Linked DNA regions of Homo sapiens. The protein of the gene in region 2 interacts with the protein of the main gene of each other region in a pairwise test. Each region holds a gene or a part of one and is shown on either strand. Other genes may lie near its edges. The genes, in order: CCND2, MAP2K3 and KDELR2.

The links.
Region 1: the proteins of MAP2K3 (region 2) and CCND2 come close enough for resonance energy transfer, tested with the Homo sapiens proteins (one large-scale study listed by BioGRID).
Region 3: the proteins of MAP2K3 (region 2) and KDELR2 come close enough for resonance energy transfer, tested with the Homo sapiens proteins (one large-scale study listed by BioGRID).

What each region holds. Positions count from the first base shown.
Region 1 is NC_000012.12:4,297,735-4,301,384, reverse strand, and holds part of CCND2 (G1/S-specific cyclin-D2), read right to left. Parts: intron 1,526-3,650; coding exon 1,376-1,525; 3' UTR 1-1,375. UniProt on the Homo sapiens protein: Regulatory component of the cyclin D2-CDK4 (DC) complex that phosphorylates and inhibits members of the retinoblastoma (RB) protein family including RB1 and regulates the cell-cycle during G(1)/S transition.
Region 2 is NC_000017.11:21,298,171-21,301,820, reverse strand, and holds part of MAP2K3 (dual specificity mitogen-activated protein kinase kinase 3), read right to left. Parts: intron 3,409-3,650; coding exon 3,342-3,408; intron 2,944-3,341; coding exon 2,895-2,943; intron 1,277-2,894; coding exon 1,163-1,276; intron 948-1,162; coding exon 828-947; intron 1-827. UniProt on the Homo sapiens protein: Dual specificity kinase. Is activated by cytokines and environmental stress in vivo. Catalyzes the concomitant phosphorylation of a threonine and a tyrosine residue in the MAP kinase p38.
Region 3 is NC_000007.14:6,460,535-6,463,966, reverse strand, and holds the end of KDELR2 (ER lumen protein-retaining receptor 2), read left to right. Parts: intron 1-791; coding exon 792-826; coding exon of another isoform or gene 827-1,001; 3' UTR 1,002-2,878; downstream 2,879-3,432. UniProt on the Homo sapiens protein: Membrane receptor that binds the K-D-E-L sequence motif in the C-terminal part of endoplasmic reticulum resident proteins and maintains their localization in that compartment by participating to their vesicle-mediated recycling back from the Golgi.

The DNA.
Region 1 (3,650 bases), on a different chromosome or scaffold from region 2:
AAAATTAACAACAACAATAAAAAAAAAAAAACGGAAAAGGGAACAAAATGCCACACCCTGATGTTCAGCCATCTATCTTTGCACCAGCAATAACTTTTCTTTCCATGTCCAAAGGAGAAGTATAGAGATGGGAATTAAGATCCTTCTGTGCCATCAGAATGGTAACAGATTTTAGTTTACAGGCTTGTCTGAGGAATGTTGTGATGGGAATGTCAGCAGGAAGGGGTGTCTCTTGAGTCCTGGTAGGAACACCAGAACTGTGTACCAAAGAACGCCAGATACCAGAAGCGAAGAGTAACCCAGACTGGGGGCAGGAAGGGAGGGGGCAAAAGAGAAGAGGGGAGGAGTATTCAGCATGACTTGCATAAACCATCCCATCTATCGCTCGGGAACAATTTTTCAAAGTGCTTTTCGAATGGAATGGTTTATAACAATGCTAAACTGTGAACCAGACATGCCAATCAGCACCAAAAATTAGTTTTTTTCTAAGAAGAAATGCCAAGGCCACATTACCCTTTTAAATACAATAACAGAAAAGACTCCATTCTGGATCCCACCCTTGGTCTCCATCTGCCTCCGTTTCATGTGAGTTTTGGTTATGGCCCATAGCTACATTTCCCCATTAGATAGCAATATGGTGGTGTCTGCAATGAACTGCATTTGGAAGAAGAAGCAGGATGTCACAGAACATGAAACCCAGGAGCCAATCACCTGTGTCCAACTGGCAAAATAAAACATCTTTTTTTAGGTAGCAGCTACTGTAGACAGCAAGAGGACATTAATGTAGAGATCCAACTACACTCCTGACTTAGTAACAGGTGGCTGAGAGCAAAGGTGCTTCTCCATCCCAAATGGTTCAATCATGTTGAGAGATTGTTTTGTACTCCTTCCCCATCATGTCCCTCCTTATTTCAATTCCTTCTTGAGTTCATTGCTTTGCAATCTAATCATGCCATAAATGGCGTACACAGTTCCTTGAAATTATACTACAAGGGGGTGTATGTGCTAGCTCATAACATGAAAAAAAAAAGTCTCCTCTAATTTGTTCCCATATTGCAGGCATACATATTCTCTAACTACTCTGCAGGTTTTCCTGTAAGCATTTTACTATTACTTTTACATAATCAAACAATAACTGTTCGCATATACAAGGGATTCCCTTATGCTGTACTTCAAATAGGCACCAAATGCTTTTTATTATTCCGTTTTCGTAGGACCTTTTTCTCTCACTTCTAAAAGATCTTTAAATATGATCTAGGTGGGGGCAGAATTTTTTTTTTAAGTTTCACCCTAAAACACAAAGAACAAAAACAACCAGAAAGAAGAAGAGACCAGATTATGGACGCGTCTCTCTCTTTCGGCCCAACTGGCATCCTCACAGGTCGATATCCCGCACGTCTGTAGGGGTGCTGGCTTGGTCCAGTTCATCCTCCGACTTGGATCCGTCACGTTGGTCCTGACGGTACTGCTGCAGGCTATTGAGGAGCACCGCCTCAATCTGCTCCTGGCAAGCTTTGAGACAATCCTAGAACAATGGTCCAGACCAGAGTTGTTAGTAAGAGGAACAGGACATAGAGCATCCTACGGAGAAAACATGCGTAATTTAGCTTGCATAAGTCTGTGCTAGTTTCCAGTAGAAATAAATGTGAAGTAAAGGAGGGATGTTCTTAAAGTGCCAAGGAACCTCACTACTCCAGGTGGGGTCCATGGGCTGGCAGCATCAGCATCACCTGCGAGCTTGTTGGAACCGCAGAATCTCAGTCAACCCAGGCCGAGCTATTCAGAACCTGCCTTTTAGTGGAGCCCAGGTGATTGGCATTCTGAGAAGCACTGGCCTAAATGATGGTCACTTATGGATGCCTGGTAATCAAGGGGCCGACCAGATGCTTTCTGCCTGGGGAAGCTGGGAAGTGGCAGAGAAAAGGGGAAGGCTACTAGAAGTGCTATGACATTAGCAAACTCAGCCCGAGAACTAGATAAGAAGGAAGCCAATGAACCAACGTACTGACCCTCACATAAACTGTAAATACTTTTTCTCACTCTGTCCCCCAGGCTGGAGTGCACTGGCACAATCTCGGCTCACTGCAACCTCCACCTTCCGGGTTCAAGCGATTCTCCTGCCTCAGCCTCCCAAGTAGCTGGGACTACAGGCACCCGCCACCGCGCCTGGCTAATTTTTGTATTTTTAGTACAGACAGGGTTTCACCATATTGGCCAGGCTGGCCTCGAACTCCTGACCTTGTGATCCGCCCGCATCGGCCTCCCAAAGTGCTGGGATTACAGGCATGAGCCACCGCGCCTCACTGTAAATACTTAAAAAAAAAAATCCCCAACTTTTTCTGCTTCTTTACCATTTCCTTAACTCTCATAAAGATATAATGCAGAATGTCTACAACATTCTGGAACCTTGAGCCATCCAATTTGGGAATAAGCAAGAATATGCAGCCTTGCTTTAGTATCAGTCTATATTGTAGGGGTAATTGACAGTGTGTCTGCCCCAGGCAGGAGCTTCTCTTAGGCAGATGACATGCAATGCAATGACAAGTCATGGGTATCACTAGACAGGGACCGTTGCTGGTGCTAGTAAGAGGGTGCAAACCGTAGACTTGCTTCTAACGGGCATTTTCTAGCCTCTCTCCTCTGCAAAGGTGCCTTTGTGCACTCTCTTAAGAAGCACATACATAAGGCAAATATGTTAAATTGAACCTCCCTGTGTCTTTTCATAGTTTAATATAAACTTCCCTTTTGTTTCTTTTACTGTGCAATTCTCCCCACCCAGAGGTTTCTATTTTGCCAAGCCCAAAAGCATTCTCTTTATTTCCCAAAGATCTAAAACACAGCTGGCCAGGCATATTGGCTCATGCCTGTAATCCCAGCACTCTGGGAGGCTGAGGCGGGAAGCTGAAACCAGGAGTTCGATACCAGCCTGGACAACACAGCAAGCTCCCGATCTTTAAAAACAAACATATAAATAAACAAAATAAAGCTGGAACTAACCACTAAGGAACAAAATTTCCATACCCCTAAATTTTCCTTTCCTATCTCTCATCTATCCCACATTTCAAACTACAGCTTTCAATGAAAACTAAGATTAGGAACAACCACAGACTAAAGGCCAAAGGCAGAGACGAAATATCACCTGGAACAATGAAATGAGGAAGGGTGGTATCTGCTGCCCACCCACTATACTTGCAGGTGGCACCTAAGTTATTTAACTTTTCTGATCTCAGTTTCCCCACAAAATAATCAGAGTAAAGGGCAACTGAGATGATACTGATATATGTGCAGTGCTAAGTGGAGCTCAATAAATGATCGTGATTATGTATAACAATAAACTGGTCCTGGAACCTAAAGAATTCAGATTTCTTTGAAATGAGGTATAGATTCGCATTTAGTCAAGACTAATGAAGCGTGTGTCAAGATCCTGACAATCTTTAGTCAAGACTGTGTGTCTGGGAAGAGTGCTGAACATGACAGACGTGACGCAGCAGCAGGAGTCTCCGTGCCACCCTGAACGAGGCTGAAATGGAGTCGGGCGCTGGCCTCTGGGACTTGCTAACACCTCTCAGACGTTCCTGTGGCATCTCCTGGTTACATCCCTTACCCTTACCCTGTCCGACCTGTTGAGCTGAATGAATGACGATAAATCA
Region 2 (3,650 bases):
TGGCAACAGCCGGCCCTGCTGACCGACAGACACCCTCATGCCAGCTGACCCTGGCAGATGGCTCCCTGCCTGCAAGGACCTGCTCCCTCTTCCCCAGTGAACTCCTGAGGACCCTCCTGACAGGAAGGTTGGGAGATGCGCAGGGGGCACCCGCAGGCTGCAGGGGCCCCATCGGCTAGGGGCTGGCACAGAGGATGCTGAGCTCTTCATGAGTGACGAGTGAGGACAGGTGAAGCAGCCCTGACCTTGCCCGATGGCTGGACTCAGATGCCCTGACCCTGCCACAGCTCTTTGAGGGGCAAGTGACCAGTATGAGCCCAGCATCGCCTAGGCTCCCGGCCTCCCTGCTCACCCACACCCACCCGGCTTGGCGGAAGGCAGCTCCACTCTTCCAGCCTCAGTCACTCTCTCAGCACACACCCCATCCTGTCCACAAACCTAGAACCCAGAATCCAGATCTCATATCTCCATGGCCGTTGCCTGCTTGGGCACCCCACGCCCCATATGCCATTCCCACGCCCTGTATGCCATGGGGATGCGAATGGTCACACAGACAGAACTGAGTGCAGCTGAATGCCAGGCCCCAGGCCATGTCGTTTACCTTCCGTGTCAACTTTAGGAGGCACCCACAACCACCGGCCTCATTTGACTGACAAGGAAACTGAGGCACTGAGCAGGACAGTAACAGCCAAGAGACGGGGGAGCCTCCTGCCAGTATGCCAGGTGTCCCCAGCACCTGGCGTACTGGAGGGACTGAGTGACAGTGGGTTGCAGGCGACTGATGGGTGGGAGGTGGAGATCCCCAGCTGCATCATGCAAGGACGCACCTCTCTGAATAGTGCCCCGTAGAAGGTGACAGTGTAGAAACAGTCGACCGTGCGCATGTTGATGTCCAGGTCCATGAGCAGCCGCTTCTGCTCCTGTGAGTTCACGGTGGCCCGGATCCGCTGCAGGGAAGGACTGCCATTCAGAGGTTGCCGTGGCAGAGGCCAACACCCACACTCATGACAGGAGGGCCAGGAGCTCAGGGGGCCACTGCCCAGTGTGCCCCAAAAAGCCTAGCCTCGGTACTGATCACTGAGAGGGATAGGCAGGGCCCCATGGCAGAGCTCAGCCCGCCTCCTCCAGGGAGCCCTCCCAGCTGCCTCCAGGCCCTGCTCACCTTCACGGCCATGATGGTGCCGCTCTGGGCGTGCCGCACCTTCTCTACCACCCCATAGGCTCCACGGCCCAGTTCTGAGATGGTCACCAAGTCATCAGCCTCCACCTCAAAGTTCTTGAAGGATGGAAAAGAGAGTCAGTGGCCAGCAAGCTGGAAGCCAGTCCTCACCCCATGCCCAGTGGAGATACCTGGGCAGCATGAAGAGGACCAGCTGATTAGATCTGGGCTCAAACCTCATATCCACCGCTCCCTGCTGTGTGACCCTCAGCAAGTCACTTAACCTCTCTGAGCCTCACGATGCCCTCTATAAAACAGGCACAGTGCCAACACCCCAAGGCTGCTATGGAGTGTGACTGAGACAAAATGCCCCGCCAGCAGGTACAGCTCTGAGAAAGAGGTGCCCTGTCCCTCTTTTCCCGACCCCACTCAGCTGGCTAGAATGAGTCACTCATTCAGAAACTGTTTACCAAGCATCCACAATGTGTTTTAGGCACTGGGGACACAGTGACAACAAAACAAAAGTATTGCCTTCACAGATGTTTCCCTCTCTTGGGAGGGACACAAAAAGGAGTAAGCAAGTAGATGAACAGGACAGCAGATGGTGAGTGTCAGGGAGTGCGACAGCCTGGAGGGAGTATCGTCAAGGACAGGCCTAGGGAATGGGGTTTATTTTTTTTAGACAGAGTGTCACTCTCGTCACCCAGGCTGGAATGCAATGGGGTAATCTTGGCTCACTGCAACCTCCACCTCCTGGGTTCAAGCGATTCTCCTGTCTCAGCCTCCTGAATAGCTGGGATTATAGGCGCCTGCCACCACACCGGGCTAATTTTTGTATTTTAGTAGAGACAGGGTTTCACCACGTTAGCTAGGCTGGTCTTGAACTCCTGACCTCAGGTGATCTACCCGCCTCAGCCTCCCAAAGTGCTGGGCTTACAGGCGTGAGCCACCGTGCCCAGCTCTTTTTTTTTTTTTTTTTTGAAACGGGGTCTCACTCCGTCACCCAAGCTGGAGGGCAGTGGTACGATCATGGCTCACTGCAACATCCACCTCCTGGGTTCAAGCAATCCTCCTACCTCATACTCTCAAGTAGCTGGGGCCACAGGCACGCACCACCACGCTGACTAATTTTCTGTATTTTTGTACAGACAGGGTTTCGCCATGTTGCCCAGGCCTGGTCCCGAGCTCCGAGGCTCAAGTGATCCTCCTGCCACGGCCTCCCAAAGTGTGGGGATTACAGGTGTGAGCCACTGCACCTGGCCTGGGAGTAGGGTTTCTGTTGGGAGGAACGGGGCATAGCACGGTCCCTGAGCCAGGATTCTGAATGGCTAGTGCCCTTCCGAGGCTTCTGGAAGCATAAAATGCAGGTTGCCCAGGTGCTGGCCTGAGGGAGTGATCCAGCGGGTCCAGGGCGGCCTAGGAGCCTGCATGTTCAATACTCTCCCCTAGGGCTAGGATGAGGTGCAGGGCCTTGCTCTCAGCTCAGAAACCTTCCTACCAGCTCTGGGCTCGCCAAGCTCCAGTCAGGCAGCCGATGGTCCTCATTCCCACCAGGAGGGTCAAAGAGTGGGTGGCCCAGGGCCACACAGCCAGCAGCGCAGGACGAGGCTCTTCTCCAGAGCCTGACCCTCTCTGACCCCTCAGTCACCTCCCCCCAAAGTGGCCCTGCAGGGTCAGCTCTACCCGCTCGTCAGGTGAAGTGAGAGGCCCTGCAGGGGTGGCGGCTGGCACCTACTCTGTCTCCAATGGTGATGAAGGTCCGGGAGTCCAGGTTCCGGGGGGGTCTGTGGAGAAAGAAGACTCCGTGAGCTTCAGAGAGAACCACACCCTTCCCCAAGTGCAGCAGTAGATGGGCCAGTGTGGGGCCTGGCGTGGGGACGAGGTGCCTCCTGCCCCGGAGGCGCCTTCTCCGGCCACCTCCTCTCACTGGCTGCTGAGCATCTACACTGAGCTGGGCACGGCCTCATCGAGCCTCCAAGACAGGGTGAGAAGTGAGCAGAGCAGAGCAAATGGTGCTGCATGAACCCCCAGCAGCCGTCACCTGGCTGTATGCACAGCAGGGGCTGCCCAGGACAGGACGAGGTAAAGCAGGGCTGGCCCCACCTGCCTCTCACTCCTTCCATTGAGCCCTGTTCGGGAAGCCTCTCCAGGGTGAGCCAGGGAGAAACTGAGGCAGACTCACGTGGGGTTGGGTGCGGGTGGCTTGGACATGCAGGATATCCGTAGATCCTTCTTCCTCTTGGATTTTCCTAGAATGGAGAGAAGGTGAGGCGTCTGGCCTATCCCTTGACATCAATGTCCCCTGCACTCCCATGAGCCATCAGGCCCTGGCCCACAAGGGTGCCAGCCTCTGCCATCACCCATGCCGGGAGCCCCCTCTCTCCAAGCCAGGCCGTTAGGCCTTCAAAGGGGGAAGGAGGCCCACCAGCCCTGCAGGGGAGCAGAGCAGGACAGACCCAGGCCTGGAGGCTGGACTCCAGGGCCTTATCTC
Region 3 (3,432 bases), on a different chromosome or scaffold from region 2:
CCTCAGCCTCCCCAAGTGCTGGGATTACAAGCATGAGCCACTGTGCCCAGCCTAATTTTTGTATTTTTATTAGAGATGGTGTTTCACCATGTTGGCTAGGCTGGTCTTGAACTCCTGACCTCAGGAGATCCGCCCACCTCTGCCTCCCACAGTGCCGGAAGTATAGGCGTGAGCTACCTCACCCTGCCATCCTTTGTGTTTTTTTTTTTTTTTATCTTTTTAAAGAGACAGGGTCTCACTCTGTTACTCAGGCTGCAAGAATGCAGTGGTGTGATCCTTCCTCACTGCAGTCCCAAACTCCTGGGCTCAAGTGATCCTCCCTGCTCATCCTCCTGAGTAGCTGGGACTACAGGTGCATGCCACCACACCTGGTTCTTTTTAAAATTTTTTTTTTATAGAGATGGGGTCGCTCTCACTTTTTTTGCCCAGGCTGGTCTTGAACTCCTAGCTTCAAGGGATCCTCCCACCCTGGCCTGCCAAAGTACTGGGATTACAGGCATGAGCCACTGCATCCGGCCTTTATGTTATAGTACCCAGAATTTCATAGGCCTCCCTACATAAGCTATATTTTACTATATATTGATTAGGGTGAAAGTCATAATAACAAAAAGCCACTATGAATTTAGTGGCACTTTCAATCAAATTTGTATTTTTAAAATACAATTGCTTATTTCCTATACCTTACTATGTAGAATCTTGTGTGTGGGAGACTTCTAGGAATGGGAAGAAGGAAGCTAAGTTTGTCAATATCAGTAACCTTTTGTTTTCTTTTCTTCTCTTTGAAATTCTAGTACTCAAGGGAAAGAAGCTCAGTTTGCCAGCATAAGTGCCAAAGACCATCACCAGCATCTGTCCTTCAGGGTGCTCGGACAGAATTCTTACCACAGCAAAGGCATAAGATGCTTGATACGGAAAATCAGAAACTTAACTCTTTTGTTGCAGATAGTCATCAGTGGCTCTGTAAAAACGCAGAGGAAAAGAGCCAGAAGGTTTCTGTTTAATGCATCTTGCCTTATCTTTTTTTATTACTGTGTACAAAGATTTTTTTACACAAAGAAACTTAATGCTGTATTAATAAATTCAGTGTGTAGCTTCAATTGGGATAGTTCCAAAAGTGAAGATTTTGTGAGGAATAAGTGCAAATTTTTTTTTTATTTTAAAAAATTCTTTGAAACTCTTAAGTCTTTGTGTCTGCAATGAAATTGTACTCCTTGACAGTTGATAGATTATATATTCTTCCATCCCTCAAACTTGCATTCCACTATATTTATTTTTTGGCAAAAGATGAGCTGTATTTGTTTGAAATCTGAGACACTATGTTCAATTGGATGTATCTGTTCAAATTTATTCCCACGTGACGTGGAAGTCCTTCGTTGGATGTCACAACACTACATTTAAGGTTGGTAAGGATGACTTGGAGGTCCATGGTTTTCATTACCAACATTTTAAGATTCTGAATGTCGATGGAGTCTCACTGAAGAGTCACCAAAGGTGCCTGCCCTCCTCCCCTGCTGGGAAGTGTCAGTTGGAGACTGTCCCAAGGGTGCTGAAGAATCCAGTGGCAGGGGTTCTGGCTGCTTTCCATCTGAGTGTGGGATGGGAGGGGTGTTCATGATCATTTGGATATAGCAATCTACTCTGAGAAATGGAACACAAGGAGTTACCTATCACTTTCACTTATAATTCCAAAAGATGACTACAACCATGTCCATGCTCAGATTCAAACAGTTTTCCATATCACTTTTGGGTGGTAAGATGATTTAATTACAGTTTTTTTTTTAATTGGCAGCACCACTAACCATTCCTTACATTCTTTTTTGTATGTGTGGTTTTCTTTTTATTTAACCCGCAGCCGACATCGTAGTTTCTTGTTTTGTTTTGTTTTACAGAGCTGTTGCATGACTTATGTTACCATCCTAAAAAACACTATATTAAACATGGAATAAATTGTCTTTTTATGAATTAGGCTTTTTGAACATCCTGTGTTGGGATTTTTTTGTTTTTCAATTGGCAACAAAAGCTCTGTAGGGCTGCAGACATTTAAAGTTCACATAATCATCTGTAAGACATTATGTATTTTGTGGAAATACTAGAATTTTTTTCCTGATTTTGCCATTATATGGATTTGCTATTTTTTGATTAATGCAAAAGTATATGACTTTGTTTTTTATGTGATACACCATAAATATTAAAGTGTTGAATACTAACAGTGCTGACTACAAGAAGGATGTAGTATTTTGGCTTTCTGCATTACAACGTCTTCTGGAGGAAGGGAGCAGGATGGGTTTCATTTGTATCTAGTGTGTGTCTTAACATCTTTCTAAATCGGCAGTGTAACTGCATAGTTTAACTTCCTGTCTGTCTCCCTCATTTTACTCTTCCCTCCTTGTCTTATGTTTTGGCTTTTGTGTATCAGAGCATCTTTCTTTGCAGCATCCTAGTCTTGCTTCAGTTTCTGTGGTCTCTTTTCATCCTGCTTGAAGATTCGGAGTGTGGAAGGAGGCTAGGAAGTCTGGTGCAGTAGGTGAGCAGACCTCTTGCTGCCCAGCCCAGGGTGGGTGGGGCGCACACCTGTCTTTGTGCATGCAAATCTGATACACCTGGCGCATCCTCTGGAGAGCACAACGCATGGAAAGGTCTGGAAGCTCTGTGTAGCCATTCCTTCTGCAGTCATCCTACCCAAGTAAAAGTAACCTTGGCTATGTTACCACCGTTTTGGTCACCCAGGAGGACATCTTAGCAAGGGTGCCTGCGAGGGAGTGTGGGACTGGGCCTCATCCTCGCCGGCGTTGGAAACCAAGGCCTTGTATGCCACGCCTTATGAAGCACTGTTTCACAGTTACTTTCACTTCCCGAATAAAGGTTACCAGGTAATTAATATTTTTATTGAGGTGTTTGTGTGTTTTTCAATGTAAGCATCATGAGAAATAAAGCAAAGTTCAGATATTTGCCCAGTAATGGATATAGGAAAAGCTGCTTTCCAGCCAGGCCTGGTGGCTCATGCCTATAATCACAGTACTTTGGGAGGCTAAGGCAGGAGGATCACTTAAGGCCAGGAGTTTCAGACCAGCCTGGGCAACCTAGCAAGACCACATCTCATTTAAAAAACTAGTAAAAATGAAAACTTAAAAATAATAAAGGCTTCTATCCATTGGCTCCTTAACAGAGAGAGACCAATCTATTCCCCTGTCCAGTTCAATCACAAAGAAACTTTGAAGAAGTTTCCCTGTTGCCTTATGCCCTGGCTAAGAGAAGAGCAGGTGGAGAAGTGGTTTTAATGGAGATCATAGTGATTTATGGGAACCCTTAAGTAAGAAAAGCACATGCTTTGGGCCCAGGCATGTGTTGAGGCTTGGTTCCCTCACTTGTACTCCCTGGCCCTGGACTTCACGTGAGCCTCGTTGCCTCCAGTTACATAGGTAAACTGCCAGG